Linked DNA regions of Homo sapiens: region 2 is linked to region 1. The links come from fine-mapping of genetic effects on gene expression. A gene starts in region 1. The other region holds a variant in brackets. All regions are shown on one strand. Distances are from middle to middle.

Region 1 (12,046 bases):
CACGCCTGTAATCCCAGCACTTTGGGAGGCCGAGGTGGGCGGATCACGAGGTCAGGAGTTCAAGACCAGCCTGGCCAATATGGTGAAACCCCGTCTCTACTAAAAATACAAAAATTAGCCGGGTGTGGTGGCACACACCTGTAATCCCAGCTACTCGGGAGGCTGAGGCACGAGAATCGCTTGAACCTGGAAGGTGGAGGTTGCAGTGAGCTGAGATCGTGCGACTGCATTCCAGCCTGGGCGACAGAATGAGACTCCGTCTCAAAAAAAAAAAAAAAAAAAAAATTAACTAAGGCTGAAGTAAAATCATAATAAATTCCATTTTGGAACAAATAAAATATTTAAAGTAATGCTGTGAGTTTTAATACACCTATGTTTCAAGTTTTAAATGTTTTTTCAACTACTTTAATGCTCTAGGAAAAAATAACCATTCAAAAAATACAGAAAAATATGTATGAGGGTATATATTTTTCTTTTTTCCTTAGGCTTCAATATGGCTTAGAAGGAAACTAGTCTTTTTTTTTTTTTTAAATAAAGATGGGGTCTCACTATGTTGCCCAGGCTGGTCTTAAACTCCTGCGCTCAAGTGATCCTCTTGCCTCAGCCTCCCAAAGTGCTGGGATTACAGACATGAGCCACCAGGCCCAGCTGATTCTTTATTTTGAATTTTTGATACTTTGTCCATCACTGATTTTTTGCATTAATTTTGATTTTTTTAAAATATTGCATTAAAGTATTATTTATCTTGGTTACTGAGTTTTTAGATGCCCCCATAAATTTTGCACTCAAGAGAAGTGCCCTCACTTGCCTTACCCTAGTCCTAGCCCTGCTCCTTCATAGTCATTTTTACATCAGGCTCCCCTGACAAACTATGGGTGTCTGGATGAGACAGACATGACTTATTATCCTTGTATCTCCACACCTGACCTAGCATAGAGGCTAACACATGGAGCACTTTAACAGCATTTTATTGAAGGGAGGAATGGAGGAAGGAAAGAAGAAAAACAGCTAATATTATAATGGCTAACATCCAAATTTCAACTGACTGCTTATTGTGTACCAGATGCTGGGTTAAGCACTTTGCTTATTTAATCTTACAACCCAATCATAAAAATAACATATCCATTTTACAGATGAGGAAATTGAGGCACACAGAAATGGGTGAATTGTAGCGCATGAGTGATTATGGCAGAACTAGGAGCAGCTCTGCTTGGGTTCCCTAAAATATTTCTCGCTTTAACTGTTTCTCTCCTGAGCATGGGAATGAGATGAGGAGTAAATGTGAATATGCAGGAAAGTAGAGCAGCAGATGTAATTTAGAAGACCCAACTCTCACACTTTCATGTGTTATCTCACTTGAGCTTCATTAACAACCCCAGGTATCATTAACTGCACTTCACAGATAAGAAACAAAGAGGTAGGGAGGGAGTGGGAGACTCCGTTGTTTCCCTCAGGGTAGAGGAGAGTGGGTGAGATGAGAGGTAGTGATAGGACAGAGGGAGGTTGACCAGCTGGCCTCCCTACTAACCTCCTTGGCAAGTTCACGGCATCCCTTGCACACTCCCCTAGCTAAGTGGAGCCAGCACCTCCCCCTGAAGGGCAGGTCTCCCTCACTCTGCCCCACCAGAGGTGGGTATCCCCTCACCAGGGACCGTGTGGAAGGAAGAGACTAGATAAAGGCCAGGGCTGGTGTCAACGGCCTCACAGAGCTGCCTTTGTCACACTTCCACTGTTCTGCTCCCCTCCAGGTTTCCTGCCTTATGGTGGGGAACACCCTTGATGCACACTCATGTGAAAAGTGAAACTCAGAACACCCAAAACCCGAATCTAAAACAGCCAAGAAATAAAAATAAGATCGTGAGAAAAAAAAAAAAGAAATTCATAGGACTTCCTGAGAAGGGGTCATCCTGGGTCTTTGCAGTTAACAGAATCTAGACATGTCCTGCAGAAGCGCTTATGGGAACTTTCAGTCAGGAATATGCACGGGACCTTGGACCCAAGGTTTCTGGAGATAGAGACAATGTCTAGAGAGGTGGGAAATGGAGCTTTCACTGTATACATTTTCATAGTGCCTGACTTATTACCATGTGCATATATAACTTTTTCATTTTTATTTTCCATTTCATTTACGTATAACTTTTTCATTTACAGAAACCCGTTTTTTTTTTATTTATTTTTTTCAGAGACATGGTCTTGCTCTGTTGCCCAGACTAGAATGTAGCATTGCAGTCACAGCTCGCCGCAGCCTCTAACTCCTAGGCTCAAGCAATCCTCCCACCTGAGCCTCCGAAGTAACTGGGACCACAGGCACATGCCAACACACCCAGCTAATTTTATTTTCATTTTTTCACTATCATATATGTTTTTTAAACTTTTAGGTTCAGGAGTACATGTCCAGGTTTGTTACATGGGTAAATTGCATGTTGCGAGGGTTTGGTGTACAGATGATTTTGTCATCCAGGTAATAAGCATAATACCCGCTAGGTAGTTTTTGATCTTCTCCCTCTTCCCACCCTCCACCCTCAAGTGGGCCCCCGTGCCTGTTGTATTTTTATTTTTTGTAGAGACAGGGTCTCGCTGTATCAGGCTGAACTCAAAGTCCCGGCTTCAAGTGATCTCCCACCTCAGCCTCCCAAAGTGCTGGGATTACAGGCATGAGCCACCACTCCCAGCCTAAAAAACCATTTTTCGAAAGTTGCCTGTACCAGCGGAGGCAGAAATTGCAGTCACTATTCTGTGGTGGCTCATCTGCAAACCTTCCTGGCTTGGTGGAGAGGAAGCCTGCACCGTCCTTCCTGTTAGGAGAGAACAGCTCAGTGCATGACACATTAGGGGTGGGTCACACATCCTGCGGACTCATGAACCTCCAAATTAGGCAGCTAATTATTCTGAGGATTCCAAGTCACATTTAAAATCAGCGTCAGCTGAAGTAAAATCAGATGAGTAATTTGCTTCCGGAATGCGAAACACACAACGCAGACTGCTGCTACTTCTTGGGAAGCTGGGCCCGGCCCTCTCAGGAGCACCAGGCTGGGGGTAATGGCCATGACCCTGTCCTGGGAAGGAATAGGGGCCATTCACCTCAGGTTAGGTTGGGTCCTGACTAAGGTGCAAGACTCACGTCAGGATCACACAACCCCTGAGGGTCAAAGGGCAGAGGTGGAGGAAGGACAGAGCAAAGACGGTAGGTCCGACCTGTACAGGGAGTGTTCAGCCCCAAGAAGAGAGACATGAGGGGCAGCATCCCACAATCTTCCACAGGAAGTGCCCTCATTCTGAGAAAGACAGCTGTCAAGTAAGGCACATGACAAGAATAGAAGCAGCTGGGGCAGTGAGGTGGAATCAGAGTCCAGAGGGTCTACAGATGGGCTAAGGGATGCTCAAGGAAGCTCTGTAGAAAGTCTCTCTAGGAGCTTAAAGCCCACGGCCTGGAATGTGAAAGGAAGGGAGTTGGTGGAAGGCTGCTTAGAGTTAGGGGAGTCGGGCATCATGCCAAGAGTGAGCAGATGAACCCCTTTCTACTCCTGGGAGAATGTCCATCCTTCACGTCACTCTGATCATGTGTAGCTGGGCAACTCTTCTTCTCCACACTCTGCTGGCCTTCTCTCCTGACTCCATCAAAGAACATCTCACCTTCTGAATAGATCAAACCTACCTTGGAGTCTCAGGTTAGAAAAAAAGATTACTTTCTTCATTCACCTGTTAACACCCGGCTGGCTTCCCTGCCTTTCCCAGTGCGTGTCAGAACTTCTTGCTAGGATCTACTCACTCATGCTCCTGCTCCCAGGTCTTAGGGTCTTAGAAATACAAATTCATGGCTGGACTCGGTGGCTCATGCCTCTAATCCCATCACTTTGCGAGGCCGAGGCAACAGGATGGCTTGAGCCCAGGAGTTTGAAACCAACCTGGGCAACATGGCGAAACTCCCTCTCTACAAAAAAAAGTTAGCTGGGCATGGTGGCATGCATCTGTGGAGGCTGAAGCAGGAGAACAGCTTGAGACCCGGAGGTCAAGGCTGCAGTGAGCCGTGATAGCTCCACTGCACTCCAGCCTGGGCAGTAGAGCAAGAAAAGAAAAGAAAGAGAGAAAGAAAGAGAAAAAGAAGGAAAGAAAGAGAAAGAAGGAAAGAGAGAGAGAGAAAGGAGAGACAGAGAGAGTAAGAAAGAAAGAAAAAAGAAAAAAGGAGGGAGGCGGGGCAGCAGAAAGAGGAAGAAAACAGAAAGAAAGAAAGACAAATTTATTTAAATATCAAAACAAAAGAGAAACTGAACTAGTGGTAGAAGTTTCTACCATAGAAAGTTTTCAAATTATTGGCTATTTGGAGTCATGCGCGCTCCTTCTCTGTTGCTAAGGCCCCAAAAGATTGCAGCACACGAGGCAGCGCCGGAGAGGACCACTGAGCAGCACGGGCCCTGGCGGGGTAATTCCGAACACCGGCTTAGGAGGCGGGTTTACCAGGATTCTCATTCCAGCCCTGCCACTAATTGTTCAGGGTTCTCAAGGTCGAGCATGCACAAAATCACCCGGAGGGCTTTTAAAACACAAGTCGCCGGGCCCAACCCGAGTTTCGGAATATTTAGGTCTGCGGTGGGGCCCATTTCTTTTCTTTTCTTTTCTTTTTTTCTTTTTTTTTTTTTTTGATACGGAATCTCGCTCTGTCGCCAGGCTGGAGTGCAGTGGCGTGATCTCGGCTCACTGCAACCTCCCCCTCCCGAGTTCAAGCGATTCTCCGGCCTCAGCCTCCCGAGTAGCTGGGATTACAGACGCCCGCCACTACGCCCAGCTAATTTCTTGTATTTTTAGTAGAGACGGGGTTTCACCATGTTGGCCAGGCTGGTCTCGAATTCCTAACCTTGTGATCCGCCCGCCTCGGCCTCCCAAAGTACTGGGATTACAGGCATGAACCACCGCGCCCGGCCAAAATTTCTAATAAGTTCTCAGGTGATTCTGACTGGCGCTGCTGGTGGGGGATCCCACTTTGAGAAACACCCTCTGCTGTGTGAGCAGCTGCCTCCCCGGTACATTCGGAATAATCATAGTAGGTTTAAAGTTTGCTGGGGCTGGGATTCACCTGATACCTGGCACTTGGAGCCCTTGACACAGTTCATGGCACACGGAATACGAGCTCTTGTTGGATGGAGCACAAATGAGAAGCAAACCTGGGGCAGGACCCCGGGGCCCATGGCCGCCCCGCCGCGTTTCCCCCTCCGGGGCAGGCCTCCGGGCTCCGAGCGCTCCAGGCTGGCGCGCAGCACATTCCGGTTCCATGCACCCGCCGCCCGCGGCTCTGCTAATGCCTGTCCTCTTTGGGGTGACTAGGACCCTCCAATCTTTTTCCGCGCTGAAAGCCTGGCCGCAAAGACCGCACCCCCGGGGCGGGCTGAGACGCAGAGAAGCCGGGGCGCCCCTCTGCCGGTCCGCCGGGAGTTCCCGGGCCCGCAGCAGGCTGAGGACACGGCGGGACCCGCTGCACCTGGCCAGGGAGGGGCGGGGCGGGCGCGTTAGTGCAGCTGGGGGAGGTCCCGCCCCGGTCCCACCCTCCCGGCCGTCCGGTGGGGAAACCCGGGAGCCACCCCGCGGCGCGGCTGCGGCTTTGCCTCGGCGCGACAGGTAAGCGGCAGAAGGAGCCCGCGACCCTCTCCCCGGGAGGGCCCCCCTGAGCTCCCCGACTGCTCGGACTTCCCTTCGGCGGATCTCGCTTCTGCCGAGTCCTCGCTCTCACCTCCTCCTCCGCCAGCCTTCGCCTCTTCCTCTTCCTCCTCACTACCCCCGACAGTAAAATGAAGGGGCTGGGCCAGGCTGGTCCCTCCTGCCTTCGCTCTCTGCTGGTCGCGGTGGCCTGTAGCTCCTCCCTCGGTAGGACCCCCCTCCACCTTGGCGCTTACGAGATGAATGAGGAGCCCAGACCTCTGGAACTTGGAGGGGTGAGAGGGGGACAAGCCAGAGCCAGGGCTCCACACCCTCTTCCCCTCACCCACCCATGCCCTGCATTCCTTCTGTGCCCCGTCTCCCCAGATCGGGCCACCCCATGTGCTCTGGTACGGCAACTCTTGCAGAGAGGTTTCCTCCTGCCCTGCCACGTTGCGCCTGAGCAGAAGGGGACAGCAAGGAGAAGCCTCGCTGGTGGAGGTCGGTCTGAGCCCTGCTTGGTTGAATTCCCTCCAGAGCCTGGGGGCTTTTGGGGGTGGGAAGGGATCTGCCTCCTGCTGTGGGGAAATGGAATCTGCTGGGTGTTCATGACTGTGACTGTCACCGACTTCCCTATTTCCTCAGTTGTTCAGATTCCCAGGCTGACAAAAAGGAGAAACAGCTTTTACTTGCATCCAGGGCCAATCATCGCAGACCCAGACGTCTGCAGAGGGTAGGATGGGGCTCTTCTGTGTATGGGGGTGGAGGGTGGTCAGTTTGCCCACAAAGCTTACAGCAGACCCCTTCTAGCAGCCGACAACCCATTGCAGCACTCTCAGAAAGGATGTTAACTCTGTGCTCTGAGCTCGCCCCCAGGCCCACACACACAATTTACAGGCACTGGGTGAGGTTCATAGTTCTGGACACACCAAAGAGCCTCGAGGACTTTTGCGCCTTCTACCAGAGATGTGTGTGCACCACACAGGCCCTATTCTCCGCTCCAGACAGATGAGCTGTCTCCCTTCCCATCAAAGGAAAGGTTAAGAAGGATGAGACAGGGAAATTCATGTGATGATGAAAACCAGGTCAGGTGAGGGGTTTGAAATATGCTTTGGTTCCGGCCACATGTGGTGGCTCATGCCTGTAATCCCAGCACTTTGGGAGGCTGAGGCTGGTGCATCACCTGAGATCAGGAGTTCGAGACCAGCCTGGCCAACATGGCAAAACCCCATCTCCACAAAAAATACAAAAAGTTAGCCGGGCATGGTGGCAGGCGCCTGTAATTCCAGCTACTTGGGAGGCTGAGGCAGGAGAATTGTTTGAACCTGGGAAGCAGAGGTTGCAGTGAGCTGAGATCGCACCATTGCATTCCAGCCTGGGCAATAAGAGCAAAACTCTGTCTCAAAAAAAAAAAAAAAAAAAAAAAGAAAGAAAGAAAGAAAGAAATATGCTTTGATTCCAATTGCCTAGCAGGAGCCAGTAGCATTGCAGGCATTTCCCTAGCTCCAGTTCCTTAATGGTGCCATGCACTTTAGGAACCCAGAGGTAATCAGAGAAAGTTGCTTCCAGGGGCACCAGGGCAGAGAACAGGACAAGACCCTCAAAAGAAAGAGGGAAGTGTGCAGGAGACTGGGCTGCTCAAGATGACCTCACCTCAGTAATGCTGCCCACAGTCCTACAGTGGGTGGAACAGCTGACTCCTACCTGTAGCAGCATGGAAGAACTCAGGGCAGAGAAGGGGAGGCCCTGATGTGTGTCAGGTGCCCTGTGAGGTCAGAAACATATTTGCCCAAGTTCAGCTGGAAGAAGTGGGGACAGGAAATATGAGCATGAACTTAGTCCATGCAACCATTGCCTCGAACAGACCTCAGGACCAGGAGGGGCAGCTAACCCTAGGGCTGAGGGCCTCTCAGTGCAGGGAGGCAGTGAGTATCATGAAGGCAGGCAGCTGACTCAGCCCTGTCACTAACTTCGATATATAATCTTAGCCAAAACACATAAACACTCCCTGGGTGGGGAGCAAATGAGAAGGTGTATATGAAGTGTTTTGGCAAAGCTCCAAGCACCAGTCAAATGCAAGACAATGTGATGTCATAGTTAAGAGAGTGGGCTTTGGAGATACATAGGCCTGAATGCAAATTCTGCCTCTGCCACATTTCTAGCTGTGTGACCTTGGTCAAGTTACTTGACCTCCCTGTGCTTCAGTTTCCTTCTGTGTAAAACAGAGAAGATAACTGTAACTTGATTTGATATGGTAAGCAGTAATATTTAAAATGGTGATGGTATTCTTCTTAACATTTTCTGGCTCCCACGGATGTGTTCCGACATCTCAGCCCTGGAAGGGATGCTGAAGACCAGGTTGGGTGTGTCCATGCCGTAGCTTGGGTGAACTCAGCTCTTTACACAGTCCTCTGCCCCTTTCTGGGAAAGCCCAAATGTTCATTCTCATTTGATAGGAACGAGAGTGAGGATTTGAATAAGCAGGAGGTTAAGTGCAGGGCAGTGCCTGTCTCTGTGTCGAGCTCAATGTTGTAATTGTGCTGTGTAAAAGGCCTGTGTGGTGAACAAGGGTGAGCTCACTCCAGGGAGGAGAAGGACTGTTAGAAGACTTTTGTGGCACCTGACAGCCCTGTGGGGTCAGCTTATTCTCTCGTACCCTGAACAACTTGGTCCTAAGGCCTAGGTAGAGATTTGAAGGAAGAAAGCAACCCAGTCCTCAACTCTGCACGTAATAGAGAATGAAGAACAGACTAGCAAAATAGCATTGCCATACATCTCAAGGCAGAGAGATGCGACAGGGATTGGAAGGCCAGGTAGATTGGTCAGGAAGAACATTCTGGAGACAGAAGTTTGGGGACCAAGACTCAAGGATTGGGAAGGAGAAGGAAATAGGATCTAGGTGGTCTACCGTCTAGGCCTGTTGGTTCTCCCTTCTCCATGATAGTTAGTGGGGAAATCCCACGTAAGGAAAGCACGGGTAGTAGAGAAACTTGGGAACAAATAACACCTAGAAACTGAGGCAGCAAGATGCACCTTAGTCTAGGAAGCCTTCTTGAAAGAGGGGAGTCTCTGGTAAGAATTTGAAAGAAAAGAAATATGGCTTGCTTAGCAAGAATATAAGGGAAAGGCTTTGAGGAAGAAAAGATAGCCAGTGAGTGCCAAGCATCTGGTTGGGCTTGAGGGTGAGCAGCAAACAGGAAGCAACCCGGCCAGCCCCTCTGTGTTTCTGCCACAGTCAAACAGTGCTCAAGGAATATGAATACGGCTGTCCTGATTGTGAAAGAGAGAGAGGGGCCCGAGGCAAAGGAGGCTGGCAGGCAGCTCCTGCTGATCCTCCAGATGCTAGTTGATAAAGGCCCAATTTCAAATGAAGGTTTTGAAAGCAGAAAGGACAGTGAGGAACCCGGAGGCAGGGAATGAATCAGCAGGACTTGGGAGCGGGTGTGGGGTGAACCTGAAATTGAGACAGGATTAAAAACGACCTGTCTGAGAGTGGGACAGGGGCTGGCTTGTTTCACGGACTTCAATGCTTCTGGCAGCAATGGGGAAATTGGGCAGGCTGGCTAGCAGAGGAGGCTGGGCACAGACCCTGAGCCCAGGGGATGGTACATTGAGTAGCCAGTGGCCCCGGGTGAAAGTTCTGCAGCCAAGAGCAGACTGGGGGATGAGGAGAAAAGGAAAAATTCAATTCTAGTCTCTCCCATTAAGCCCCCTTCCCAATTTGAAGACTGGCCCAAGAGGCCTTCGGGAATACCCCTCCTGTCTTCCACCCTTCTCATCACTTCCCTGTCCCTTCTCTGTCCTTTCCCCCAACTCTCCCCCTCAAGCCCAGTCTCGTTGTCACCAAGGCTTCTAGGTGATTAGAGAATCCCACCTCATCTCCACCTGGAACCCTCCCTCCACTTCTGCACTCCTAGGGATAAACCGTTGCACACCCCTGCCCCACCTGGAAGGGCCTACAGGGTCTCCAGTGAAAAACCTGTGAACTGTTGAACCTCCTGTTTGGTGGCATATTATTTTGATTTTTGGTGACTTTTTCTTGGAATAAGTCAACAAATATTAACCAAGTGCCTACCACATGCCAAGCGCTGCTCTAGGTATACAGTGGTGAGCAAAGTTGGGTTGAGTTTTTCAATAGAAAATCCATGTTTGGGTAATTTAAGCTTAAAATATCATGCAAACAGGCTGGATGCATTGGCTCACACCTGTAATCCTAGTACTTTGGGAGGCCGAGGCAGACAGATCACTTGAGGTCAGGAGTTCAAGACTAGCCTGGCCAACATGGCGAAACACTGTCTCTACTAAAAAAATACAAAAATTAGCCGGACGTGGTGGCGGGCGCCTGTAATCCCAGCTACCCGGGAGGCTGAGGGATGAGAATCGCTTGAACCCAGGAGTCGGAGGTTGCAGTGAGCCGAGATCCCGCCACTGCACTCCAGTATGGGCAACAGAATGAGACTCCATCTCAAAAAAAAAAAAATTATGCAAACATAAAATGAACCTTGATATGTTGGGGGAACTTGACAGACTAGCTACAGAAATAATTTTCAGCGTATCTTCCTGGGAAAATAAGCCACAGTATTGCAGCTTGAGTCTTGGAGAAAAGCTGAAGTGTCTTGAAGGTGTAATTACGGGGAAAAATAAAAACCTCCCACATTCTGTGATCAAAAGGGTCAGGGGTGGGAGGAGGGCTTTGGAGAAGATAATTTGCTCTTCTGTTCACAGTATGAGTACAGAGGACTTGAGATGAGTGCTGTGTTTGATGGAGAGAAAGTGCTTATGAGGAAGAAAGGACGGTCATTTGGCCAAACAGCCTCTCAGCCCCATTTCCCCCAACAGTAGTGTGAAATTAACCTGCCCCCTCCCCAATATGATGTCTAGCTCCACACACCTGTGCCCGTGGTAAGAGTGGTGACAGTTATCACTTTCCAAAGAAACTTGTAATTGAGCCCTCCTCTGAGTAACTTGAGCAAATATCGCTGTGGTAAGGACTGCTTGCTTCCTGCTGCCACGTCTAAGGAGGTGACCAGCTCACCTGATAAATAGAAAGAAACATTGTTACAAAGAGGCCACCTGGAAAGCTAGGGCATGTTCTGGATGGCTGACTCTGACATTCACAAAAGCTAAGGCTGCCTGGGACTTCCAGTCTCCACATCTTTAAAGCATTTGTATCCTTGAGTGGGAGGAAGGCAAATGCCAGGAAGGGGATCAAAGGGTGGAGTCGGGGAGGCTCAGGGAGGACAGGCCTGGTCCCCAAATTCCCTACTCAACCTCCACGGGTATGAGTGTGGTAAACAGAGTAGTGGTCTAGGAGTTGAGAGATCGGGTTCTACTCCTGGGAGCCACTAGCTGTGTGTTGCTAGAGAAGTCACCTAACCATTCTGGCCTCGCCGTTGATAAAATGAGGGTGTTAGACCCACAGACAGACCTAGTCAAAACAGCAAGCTAATGTGTAATGGCAGAATATCCTGTAAGTCAAGTATTTCTTGCAGTAAGTTCATTCAGAACATCATTTAGTGAAGCCAGTGCTCCACATTTAACCCTTCCAACCTCATCTCATTTAACAAGAGTTTGTGGAACTAGCCAGGCCTGATGGCACGCACCTCTGTATTCCCAGCTACTCAGGAGGCTGAGATAGGAGGATTGTTTGAGCCTGGGAGGTCGAGGCTGCAGAAAGCTGTGTTCATGCCACTACACTTCAGCCTGGGTGACAGAGTGAGACCCTGTCTCCAAGAGAAAAAAAAAAAGTTTATGGAACACCTGCTATATGTAAAACTTGTGCTAGACTTTGTAGGTGATAAAAAGCTGGAAATGGCATGGCCTCTCTGGTCCAGGAGTCCATAAACACAGGGTGGGCTGTGATGAGACTGGAGTACAAATAAAAATCGGGTGCTAAGGGGGCAAAGCAGGGAAGAGATGAATTCTGCTGGGAGATCTGAGAAGGCTTTTTGGAGGGGGGCTAGAATATAAACTGTGGGGTTTGGACTGTGTCACTGGCTTTCAAACTTCTATGACTTGACCAAAGTGAGAAATATACTTTATAGCGAGACCCGGTACCTGTGTATATGTGACAGGGCATCCCAAAAATCTTAGGGCAGTTTTATAATTTAATCACATTACAAGCATAAATTCTGCAAACCATAAAAACTATCATTTGAAAATGGAATCATTTAAACTTCTTTTGTCTTTAGTTGTATGAATTTTGAATAACAAATTTATCATTTTAATTTTGTATCAGGCAGTGTGTATCTTTAATAGACTGAAACAAACATTAAAATAAAAGTTTACTTTTCAGGCTGGACATGATGGCTCACACCTGTAATCCCAGCACTTTGGGAGGTCAAGGCAGGAGGATTGCTTCGGCCTAGGAGTTGAAGACCAGCCTGGGCAGCATAGTGAGACCCCCATCTCTACCAAA
Region 2 (12,046 bases), 31 kb after region 1:
CTCTGGAAGATGGTGGCTGAGAGGGTGGAGAAACTGAGGGAGGCATCTGAGAGCCTCTGTCAGAATTTTGTACTTGGGCCGGGCGTGGTGGCTCATGCCTGTAATCCCAGAACTTTGGGAGGCCAAGGCAGGCGAATCACTTGAGGCCAGGAGTACGAGACCAGCCTGGCCAATATGGTGAAATGCTATCTCTACTAAAAATGTAAAAATGAGCCAGGCATGGTTGCACACACCTGTAGTCCTAGCTACTCAGGAGGCTGAGGCAGGAGAATCACTTGAGCCCAGGAGGTGGAGGTTGCAGTGAGCCAAGATCACGCCATTGCACTCCAGCCTGGGTGACAGAATGAGACTCCATCTCAACAACAACAACAAAAAGTTTGTACTTGATACGTGACCACAGAAACACAACTCTGAGGTGCTGTCCCTGACATTAGAGAGGGTGCCCAGGTGAACAGGCATAGGATCTAGCACCACAGAGCCAGAGCCCTGGTGAGGCAGTTTTGACCACAGACAGGGCTTCTTTCTTCCTCTCCCCATCTTCCCTGTTAACCTCCTTCCCCAGCTCCGGCTTCTGTGGAATGGCTCAGTACAGCAGGTGTTGGGGGTTTAAAATTCAGGCCTGCTAGAGGCCTGAGAGCCCCTAGCTTGGTGCCCACAGGGGATTGGGTATACAGCAAAGTGGTGGACTGGCCACAATGACACTGTCCCTTCCAGAGCACCTAAAGGAGAAGCTGGAGCAGTACGTGAAGCAGCTGCAGGTGGTGAGGGTGGTGCGGCAGGAGGAGCGGAAGGGGCTGATCACCGCCCGGCTGCTGGGGGCCAGCGTGGCACAGGCGGAGGTGCTCACGTTCCTGGATGCCCACTGTGAGTACCAGGGCACCGGCCTGGGTGTAACCTGGAGGCTCCCTCCCTGCTAGAATGAGCCAGGGCCACAGCCTCCCCAAGGCCCCTTCCTGTTCTCTCTTCCGGGAGTGAAGGAGGCTTGGGACCCACTCCAGGTGCCTCTACCCCTTTCTCACCCCAATCCCAAGGATGTTTCATCAAGAAGACAAACATCCCTAAAACAACTGGTGACCCCAAAATCACTGGAAGTGATTTCCAGTGATCACCGGGGCCCCGGACATTCATCCCTCCCTGTACTCCCATCTGCACCTTGCTCTGAGCTTGGCCCCTCAGAGAGGCCTCCTGCTATGACAGAACTGGCTTGTTTGGGGCTTTCTTCTAGGGCAACATGGAGCCAGGAAGGCCTCCTTCTTGCCCAAAACCAAAACACTTCCCCACTGTTGTGGAGGATGAAATATTTTCCCTAGGAGTGGTGATATATATTAGGGGAAGCTCTAGTCTTGGAGTCAGAATTCTTGGTTTGCATTCTGACCCTGCCCCACTAACAGCCTCAGTTTCCTCATTTATAAAATAGGAATGAGGATACTAACCTTACTGAACAGAAATATTACTCTGAGGGCCGAATGAAGTAATAATACGTGCAGAAGCTCACTGAAAATCTCAAGGAGCTAGACAAATGAAAGAGATTATTCTTCTACAATTAGGGCTGAAGCTTGACATGCGGATGCCCCTGGGAGGGGGAACACCCTCTTCTGAAATCCACACGTGGGCCCGGAGGGCTGGGCCAATGGATCGGCTGGAACCCCGGAAGATACCATCCAGGGCCTCCCTGTGCTTTTGGGTCATCTGAGTTGACCATGTTACTCCCCTGAGACCTCCATTCTCCCTGCCAAAGCTGCCTCCGCCTTTGGGGGTAGAGGGGTGGTAGAAGGGTTTTAGGAAATTCTGTGTGCTCCCTGTAGCTGTGGGGCTTGCTGCCTGTAACCCAGGAGTAGGTGGACTGTCTCTTATCCTCCTGGGCATTCCCTCCAGGATGCAGCTTGGGCTCTGCTGTGGGCAGGGCCCTGACTGCTGCCTCCTGGTTGGGGCCTGCAGGTGAGTGCTTCCACGGCTGGCTGGAGCCCCTCCTGGCTCGAATCGCTGAGGACAAGACAGTGGTGGTGAGCCCAGACATCGTCACCATCGACCTTAATACTTTTGAGTTCGCCAAGCCCGTCCAGAGGGGCAGAGTCCATAGCCGAGGCAACTTTGACTGGAGCCTGACCTTCGGCTGGGAAACACTTCCTCCACATGAGAAGCAGAGGCGCAAGGATGAAACCTACCCCATCAAGTAAGGACCGCAGCCTGGTGAGCCCCCAACCTGGCCCCAGTCCTACCCAGTTCCAGGAACCTGTGCCATCTCACATCAACATTTGTTAGGTGCTCTATCAAGCACTTGACATATTGTGATTAATCCTCACTCCCTATGAAGCAGGTACAATACTAAGAATACTAAGGCTCATAGTGATAAACACTGACCTAAGATCATGCAGCTAGCAACAGTGGAGCAAGGACACACTTCCCGGACTGTCTGGCCCTAACCGTGGCACTGCTCTTATTCACCATGACAGTTTGCTCTTATTCACCACTTACCATGTGCCAGGCACTGAACTAAGGGCTATACATTCTTTAGTTTATTCCTCCCTACACATAAAAGGAGTGGCCCATGCTTGCAGATGGGGCAAGAGATGTGATGGAGGCCATTGTGGAATAGTCACTGTAATAAGAGGGAGTGGTATGTGCCCCCAGGTGACTGTCTTTGAAAAGACTGAGAATATACTAAAAGAAAACAGACACATTTTCTGCAGCGTGAAGTTTGTAGCAGTTGCCCTGAACTTCTTTGGTGAAGGGCCAGATGATAAATATTTTGGGCTTTGCCAGCCACATATAGTTTGCTGCATATTCTTCATCTTATTTATTTTTTATTTTTTTTACAAACATTAAAAAATGTAAAAATAATTTTTTGCCCCAGAGGCTTCTAAAACCAGGCAGCCAGATTTTGCCCACAGGCTCTTGTGTGCCAGCCCCTGAGCTGCAGGGTAGACAATTGGAAGTCAACCCACAGTTTAATGCCCACTGGGCTCACCTTTCCCTCTTATACTCACCCCATCCTCCCCTCTCCAGGCAGCCTGTTGGTGTTATTGGAGACTGTAAGTTTATTTTAACAGTTGTCTCAGACAAACCAAGTTGAGGAGTGACTTTTAGTGTAGCCTGTGGTTTGGGATTATTTGTGTCATTGTTATCTTAGACTGGCCAGTATACTTAAGGCTCAACTGAATATACATCCAGGACGGAGGGATGCAGAGGTTGGAGATACAGTAGCCAGAGATAAGAGGGAAGGTTTGAAAGGAGGAAAGGATTGGTGCTTCTTCCTCTCCACGTGCCCAGAATCCTAAAAAATGCTGTCCATGCCAGGCACAGTGGCCCACACCTGTAATCCCAGCTAGATGAGAGGCTGAGGTGGATTAGGTGGATTGCTTGAGCTCAGGAGTTTAACAACAGCCTGGGCAGCATAGCAAGACCCCATCTCTTAAAAAAGAAAAAGAAAAAAAAAAAAACCTGCTCAGAGTCCCAGTAGAAAGGAACTCAGGTGAATGCCACAGGGAGAAATCCCACAGATCCTGAACAGCCAGCTGCTCTGTCTCCATTAGAAGGAGAGAGGGAAAGGAAAAGGCAAAAGAGAGAAAAGAAATTGGAACTTTCCACTGACCCAATGTTTGTTTCATAGCTGCCTTTTGTTTGGTGTGCACTGCAACAGATCCCCACCCCCACCCCCATGCCAGTGACCAGGCACACAGCAGCACAGTCAGAAAGAGGGCACCTGGCCCCCACCCATCACTGACGTCGCAGGCTTCAATGTCCAAGGGCCATACAACTGGAAGACAAAGCTCCAGTGTTTGAGGAATGAATGTGCTCCTTGGCCCACATGCCCCGGTAGCATGCATGGCTTGCCGAGGCTCTTCATGTAGCGCCCCCACCCCAGGAGGACTGCTGACAGTCCCCTCCCGGCCTCCCATCTCAAGCCAACCAGAGCCTAAGAGGAGAGGCAGAGGACCTGGGGGATTCTAGGGGTAGGCCAGGACATAAAGGGTGTTTACTAGAGGTTGCCTGTGGTTGTGAATTTACAGTGAAGCTTCCCATGCAGGGTTTGTCCTCATGGCTAATCCATCAGTGACTTCTCGGTCTGGGAGACTTCTCAAAGACAAGACTCAGGGCCTGTGGGGGAGGAAGCAGGTTGGCTTCCAAGTGCTCCTCTGCAGTTCCAGCACTCTCTGAGCCTCTCAGGGTGCTACTTGTGCCGGTTTAAGACCCCTGGGAGAGGCCAGAGCCTCTTCCAAAGTGATAGGAAGCCAGCCTGAGCACGACTGAAATTCCTTCCAGAAAGTGGCTGCAGGAGCCAACTTCAGGTAGACAAGAGCAACCACAGGGTAACACCAGGGTCACATTCCTGGGTAGGCACCTTGATGGATCATGCGAATGAACAGTGATTGGGCCCCAGCTGTGTGTAAGGCACCTAGATAGGTTCTGGGGTTACAGGGGTTCTGTATCTTTCTGCTTGGTTGTACCACATGAAGCTGCCCACTGAGGGCAGCAAAGCCCTAGCCATGCCAGGCTGGCCCAAACAGAAACCAGCAGCTGATGATTGTGCTCCTGCCATGTCTCACCGGCCCCCACCCCAGCATTCCATCTTGCTTATACTTCCCCGGGTCCGCTTCGATACCCTAACGCTTAGCCCAGTCCCTCTTCGAAGCAACCTGGTATCTAAATTCTAGGAATTAGATGTTTTTGTCAATTTATCTTATCTTGAGTCCACACCTCCCTGCCTGTGTCTGAAAGCCAGAATCTTTTTATAACCTTCTAAATGTTCCCTGTAGCCCAAATTGAGCTTGATCTCACCTGACCTTCCACTGTTTCCAGGAGCACCTTTTATCAGCTTTCTCTGTTAAAAGCAACTGGCAACTTCTCCCCAAATCTACAGTTTCTCATGCAGTGTAAATCACCAGGGCTAGGCGCCTACTAAAACTGTGGCTTAATAGTCCCTGAGGGGCAGGGGCCCTGAAACAGAATGGAGTCAGCCCAGCTGACAATATTCATTCATTCATTTATTCATGGTTTGAATCCTGCCTATTTTCAAAAACAATTTCACACAGCTTCTGAAAGTTGAGTATCTCCTAGGCTCCAGGCACTTTGCTGCCAAAAAGTAACTAATGGTAGCTTTAACCTCTGTGACTAGATTGAGCTCTGGGGGAATAGGATCTGTCTTTCTCCGTTCTGTGTGTCCATCATGTAGCACGGGCCCTGGTGGCCAGTGTTACGTGCATCCTAGGTTGAACGAATGAATGAGTGCCTTTTAGAGGATAATTACATATTTCCTTGACCTGGTCCTAGAAGGGGAAGAGGACATAGTAAAAGCTAAATGATGAGTGAGTTAGTGGATGAGGGGCTGCACGTCCTGAGAAAGAGGAAAGGAGGGGGAGGTGGGTTAGGAGGGGAGTCCACAAACAGCTTTCCCCGCCAGGCTCCGCTCCTCCTCTCCCAGAAGATGCACACACTTCTCCCTCTGTCTCTCCAGATCCCCGACGTTTGCTGGTGGCCTCTTCTCCATCTCCAAGTCCTACTTTGAGCACATCGGTACCTATGATAATCAGATGGAGATCTGGGGAGGGGAGAACGTGGAAATGTCCTTCCGGGTGAGAGTGAAGAGGGCTTTGGGGGGAACCACAACATCCCAGGCGACAGCTTGAGAAACATCTCTCAGGCAGAGGTGGCATCAGGGACATCCCATCTGGAACTGAACTAGAAAGGGTGGCTATTTCCCAGTGTGTCTCTTCCTCTTTTCTGCTCCCCCTGTCCATGGCAGTAGGGCTTGGGCAGTCAGCCTGGACAGCTCAAAACAAACTACTGGGCACAACTTCTCAGAGGCAAGGAATAATAGGGGTAATGAGGACTGGACATCTGGTGACTGGGGACTCTTTTGCGATGTCTGTGGGAAAGGGTTAGGGTGAAGATAGAAACAGGTTAGTATGTTCACAACTAGGGCTAGAAAAAAAAAACAGATGAGTAACCAGTCATCATCCTTTTTCTGGAAAAATCAGGCTCCCCTTCCCAGTTCAAAGGACACATGCCCTGGTAACCTTTGAAGTTTCCCTACCTATGTACAATAAGCCCTTCATAACAGTCAGAGAAGATGGTGGCCCCAACTCTGGTGGACCCCAGAACTCTGAGAGATTCCAGGAATTAGGCAAATCAGGATTAGGTCAGGAAGCAAGGATTGCCTCTCCATGAAACCTACACAAATCTCCATGCCATGGAAAAGTAATTAGTAAGTAGATGAGCTCATTTATGAAGTCACCTCTCACGGTGCCTGATGCATATTAAGCACGTAATTGATGCCTGCTGTTACTATAACGATTATGTATTTCTGTTGCTGCCACACTAAAATGAATAACAACATACTTTCCCACCTAAAACCCAAAAGAAGAAACCAGTGGGAGGGATGTCTTCAGCCAGCCCACCAGCATAGAAAAGGGTCACCTGCCAGTCACCCCAACTCCCAGCGGCCCAATCCTAGGCTCCTCCATGAGCCTCTGACCTCTGTTCACCTTCCTAGGCAGCCAGTGTGCTAAGGGCCCAAGTGACTACCACTAGCCACCTAGCAGCCAACTATCCTTGCTATTAATTAACAGACTGATGCTCTGGTTTTTATCACCTGAGGGAGCTGATAAACTCACATTTCCAGGTCAAAAAGCCAAGTGATCAGAGCTCAGAGTAGGTATACAGGCACAGGTAACAAAAATTAACCAGCAGGCTTTTCCCTAAAGTGGGCCCTGGTAAACACAGGACCCTGCAGTCTCCCTGTGCTTAAGTCAGAGTGAACCAACATCAGAAAGCCTGGGATCGTGTAGTCATGGCCTAGGAAGAAGCCTGGTCGGTATCCTTTTTCCCAGGGAGAGAGAGCAGCATTTGCCCAAGTCCTTGGACCTGGGGTCTGGTGCTCTGGGAATAGAATAGAGCTGCTTATGGGGAGACTGTCTCACCTAGCCCACTGAAGGCCTCATCCTGTCTCCTCTTACATCAGGTGTGGCAGTGTGGGGGCCAGCTGGAGATCATCCCCTGCTCTGTCGTAGGCCATGTGTTCCGGACCAAGAGCCCCCACACCTTCCCCAAGGGCACTAGTGTCATTGCTCGCAATCAAGTGCGCCTGGCAGAGGTCTGGATGGACAGCTACAAGAAGATTTTCTATAGGAGAAATCTGCAGGCAGCAAAGATGGCCCAAGAGGTGAGAGGAAATGGTTCT[C/T]GGAGAGGTTTAGATGAAGAGAAGTACGGCCCCCAGACCCTGTTCATGGGCCTAATGGCTGGGACCCACCTCATCTCTACCATCTGGCGCCTCCCTTCACCCTCAGGGACCTGTGAGCTAGAGCCCAGGAGAAGGCCACAAGGCACATAGGTTTCAAAAGCTAGAGAATGTTGTCCCTACGCATAGAGTCTCTGCATCCCTTTGGAGGGGAAGGGAGGGAAAGGAGATTTGGAGGAAAAGCCTCTTACGGAGGCTTTGGAGGCTTTGGAGGAATGGCTCTGAGAGCCTCGGCACTGGGGAGTGGGACATAATTGTCTGGGGAGTCACAGGAGATGGACCGATAAGCAGGGGACTCCAAAGCTAAGGCGGGGTTTTTGGGATTGGATGTGAGGGCTGGGCCAGTATCTTTAACAGGTCCTGAGTGGGAATGAACATGAGAGACAGTAGCCCCAGGCGCTCCATGCTATCTGCACTACTTCAGCCCAGACAGGAAGGTCAAAGACTGGTGGAACTGGCTGGGTGTGGTGGCTCACGCCTGTAATCCCAGCACTTAGGGAGGCCGAGGCGGGCAGATCACCTAAGGTGAGGGGTTTGAGACCAGCCTGGCCAACATGGTGAAACCTCATCTCTACTAAAAATACAAAAATTAATTGGGCGTGGTGGTGCGCGACTGTAGTCCCAGCTACTCAGGAGGCTGAGGCAGGTGAATCGCTTGAACCCAGGAGGGGAAGGTTGCAGTGAGCCGAGATTGCACCACTGCACTCCAGCCTGGGCAACAGAGTGAGACTCCCTCTTAAAAAAAAAAAAAAAAACTGGTGGAACTGATCCTTAGGGGGCTGGCTTGATTGACAGAAATCCTTCGGTGACATTTCGGAACGACTGCAGCTGAGGGAACAACTGCACTGTCACAACTTTTCCTGGTACCTGCACAATGTCTACCCAGAGATGTTTGTTCCTGACCTGACGCCCACCTTCTATGGTGCCGTAAGTCTTGAGAACCAACCTGCCTGCCCATCACCACAGCACCCCTTGGAGAAGTTCAAGACCACTGACCCCACAGATGGATGACAAACAAGAATTGAGTTTTGCCCTGCACCCTCCTTTATCCAGGAGGAGGACTGAGAGGCCACGTTGGGGCTTCTAGAGATAGCAAAAAACCTTATAAAGGGCAAAACAACCCACAAGCAGTGGTCCTGAAACATTAGCATGCATCAGAATCACCAGGAAGGCACGGTAAAACGCTAGGGCCCATCCCCAGAGTTCCTGATTCAGAAGGACTCAGGGGAGGTCTGAAAACTTGCATTTCTCACGAGTCTCCAGGTGATGCTGATGGTCCAGGGCTCACATTTGAGAACCACTGCTTATAAGGAAACTCCCACGTGCTGAGGGCTTCTTCCAGGGACCTGGCATCCTGGGAGGTTCCCTGCCTGCCCCACAGAGGGGTTCAGTCCTGCCCTTTCCAGCCTCTGGGGCTCTGCAGCTCACTTTGCTGTTAGCTCCAGGCATGTGGGTTAACGCACAGAGGAGAGAAATGACGGGGGAAATCCAGCCATGCAAATTTGTTGCAGTTGACTGGAATTTGTTCCAGTGGGGCCCCATACCACACATGAGGAACCTCCTGACTGTGCCATCCTGCTTCCCCTCTCTGCTCACCCTTCTGCAGATCAAGAACCTCGGCACCAACCAATGCCTGGATGTGGGTGAGAACAACCGCGGGGGGAAGCCCCTCATCATGTACTCCTGCCACGGCCTTGGCGGCAACCAGGTATGCAGCCCACCCATCTCCGGAGCATCTCCTCTCCTCACCGGCTCCTTTTCTCTACCCTAAAGAGTCCTTTCCTGAGGACTGGGAGGGAGGAGATACCATCCCTGCCCTCAGGAAGCTTCCAGTCGGAGGAGAAGGCATAACACACACAAGGTCTGAATAAGGGACATCCGGAGAGAACGAGGCATCGGTGCTGGGTGTGAGAAGGGGATGGGAGGGAGGGTTGTTCATCAGAGGAGGCTTGAGGAGGCTAGCTGCTGGGGGATATTTAGGGGTGAGGGTGGAAAATTTTCCAGCACATCCCATCACCTGCACTCAACTTCTATCTTCAATGCATCCTCTGCCCAGAAGCTACCACTCTGATCCTACCACCTTCCAGTGACCCCAAAACTAGGTGCCCAGCACTAGTAAGTGAGAGGCACTGAAAACAGAGCCAGAGTGGGGAAAGGAGTGGTGTGGGTCACTGAACAAGCCCGCTGGCATATGTAGGTGAAGACAGTCATTCTACAGCAGTTTCCTGTACCACTGGCCTGCAAGATGATTTCCAGTGGTGCACTGGAGAACATTTTTTATTTTAATAGTAATGTATTAGCAAAAATAGAACAAGCATATCACATGATTTCACGGATGTTACTTAAAATGAGGCTAAGTTAAATTGAATTTTAATCTAATTTAAAGGAAATATGATTAGGCACGGTAGCCCACACCTGTAATCCCAGCACTTTGGGAGGGTGAGGCAGGTGGATCACATGAGCCTAGGAGTTTGAGACCTGTCTGGGCAACATAGCAAGACACCCCATCTCTATAAAAAATTTTTAAAAAATTAGCTGAGTGTGGTGCTACACGCCTGCAGTCTCAGCTACTCAGGAAGCTGACATGGAGGATCGCTTGAACAAACGAATTCAAGGTTGCAGTGAGCTATGATCATGCCACCACACTCTAGCTTAAGCAACAGAGCAAGACCCTGCCTCAAAAAAAAAAAAAAAAAAAAAAAAGAGAAAATATACTGGTTGGGCGCAGTGGCTCACACCTGTAATCCCAGCACTTTGGGAGGCCAAGGTGGGAGGATCACTTGAGCTCAGGAGTTTGAGACCAGCTTGGGCAACATAGCAAGACCCCATCTCATAAAAAAGAATTTTATATACATATACATATATATATACACACATATATATATACACACACACATATATATATATGTATATAAAATTCCAGCATAACCCTGATATGGTAACAATCCTGAAGGCAGCACATAAATGAGTAAAGTCTTGGCATGGCCTCACATTCACTCTCCTCCCCAGGAGACCATGCATGGTAGACAGCTCAGGGCAGGTGGCTTTGGAAGGCTGGGGGTGAACTCTCCACCTGCTTCTCTTGTCTTGATTTCCAGTACTTTGAGTACACAACTCAGAGGGACCTTCGCCACAACATCGCAAAGCAGCTGTGTCTACATGTCAGCAAGGGTGCTCTGGGCCTTGGGAGCTGTCACTTCACTGGCAAGAATAGCCAGGTCCCCAAGGACGAGGAATGGGAATTGGCCCAGGTGAGTCAGTGTCCAGAAAGCTCAGAATCAAGAACTTGAGGCCAGGTGTGGTGGCTCACGCCTGTAATCCCAGCACTTTGAGAGGCCGAGGAGGGCAGATCACGAGGTCAGGAGTTCGAGACCACCTGGCCAACATGGTGAAACCCCATCTCTACTAATAATACAAAAATTAGCTGGGCATAGTGGTCGGCGCCTATAATCCCAGCTACTCAGGAAGCTGAGGCAGGAGAATTGCCGGAACCCAGGAGGCGGAGGTTGCAGTGAGCTGAGGTCGTGCCATTGCAGTCCAGCCTGGGTGACAGAGCAAGACTCCATCTTGGGAAAAATAAAAAATAAAAAGAGAACTTGAGGCCACATCGGCCCCTCTATATTTTCTTCATTTTCTTCCTGAGACGCCATGGGGTGGAGTAGAGCAATGTAGAAGGTAGGTGAGTGTGTGTGTGGCCACAGGCAGGGTTCTTCAGGCTTAAAGGGTATTTGGTGATGACTGATGTAAAAATGGGGTGACAGGTTATGGTTCGTGGCTAGCTCTGCCATGGCTGAAGCATTTTTAGGCTGAACCCAATTAGAAGAAGGTGAAGAGTCATTCATAGTTCCTGCTTGTCCTCTGTGTCCTAGGCTCAAAGCTAGGCACTCACATGCCTGGGTCCAGTTAATCTTTCAGAGGCTCTTTCCAAGCAGGAATAGTCACTGTTTCTACAGATGAGCTGGAGCCGGAGGAAGCCCAGCATGTCTGTGACTGGCCCAAGACCCATCACTAGTAAATGGCAGGCCTGGGATTTAGCCCCAGATGGGTCTGACTTGAAAGCACGGGCTCTTTCCATTACACCACACTGCTCCAGGATATGCCATGTAACCGCCACCATGCTGAGCTCAAGCCAGCACCCCAAGTGAGCCTCCCTACTCCACCCCAGCTTAGGAAAGAGGAACCTAACCTGGAGGCTGCAGGGAAGGGAGCAGTCTAAACATAATCCAAGGCAGAAAATTGGAGGTGGAGCAGTGGCCCTGGGTCTTTGAGCCTGGCCATCTGGGGGTGCGGGAGGCCCTGAAAGCATTTTTCTCTCAGCCCATGGTCTTGTCTTTCACCATTTCATCCACTCAGTCTGAAGCTAGGGATGGGGATTTGGCACCAGATAGAGGTGGGAACTCAGGAATGTGTCTCATGAGAGGGCAGGAAAGGAATGGGGAAGTGTCCTCTTTGTGCCTTGTGGGGTTCCCTTGGCTTTTGTCAATTGCACCCCATCGCATTGTCCCTGGTAGCACCGTTAAGAGGTCTGTGGCCCAGACTGACCTTTTGCTTTGTCATCTTTTAGGATCAGCTCATCAGGAACTCAGGATCTGGTACCTGCCTGACATCCCAGGACAAAAAGCCAGCCATGGCCCCCTGCAATCCCAGTGACCCCCATCAGTTGTGGCTCTTTGTCTAGGACCCAGATCATCCCCAGAGAGAGCCCCCACAAGCTCCTCAGGAAACAGGATTGCTGATGTCTGGGAACCTGATCACCAGCTTCTCTGGAGGCCGTAAAGATGGATTTCTAAACCCACTGGGTGGCAAGGC

The links. PIP is the estimated chance that this variant, and not a neighbour inherited with it, causes the effect.
Region 2: its variant is fine-mapped to the expression of GALNT6 in lymphoblastoid cells (TwinsUK, PIP 0.95).

Annotation. Positions count from the first base shown.
Region 1 is chr12:51,385,165-51,397,210 of GRCh38, reverse strand. GALNT6 (polypeptide N-acetylgalactosaminyltransferase 6) reads left to right here and starts at 5,805. Exons shown (of 12, transcript NM_007210.4): 1 at 5,805-5,924; 2 at 6,274-6,361. It also overlaps a transcript of SLC4A8 not described here. RefSeq lists enhancers at 3,325-3,414, 5,458-6,042, 6,043-6,628, 7,590-7,679, 8,705-9,204 and silencers at 5,233-5,772, 8,812-9,106.
Region 2 is chr12:51,354,248-51,366,293 of GRCh38, reverse strand. GALNT6 (polypeptide N-acetylgalactosaminyltransferase 6) reads left to right here. Exons shown (of 12, transcript NM_007210.4): 5 at 715-864; 6 at 1,939-2,173; 7 at 5,456-5,573; 8 at 6,962-7,162; 9 at 8,033-8,164; 10 at 8,844-8,945; 11 at 10,336-10,488; 12 at 11,802-12,046. The coding sequence ends at 11,915. Among named protein-coding and RNA genes, the nearest start is that of CELA1, 14 kb to the right of the region's middle. RefSeq lists an enhancer at 8,441-8,490. The variant C/T (reference allele first, on the strand shown) is at 7,181.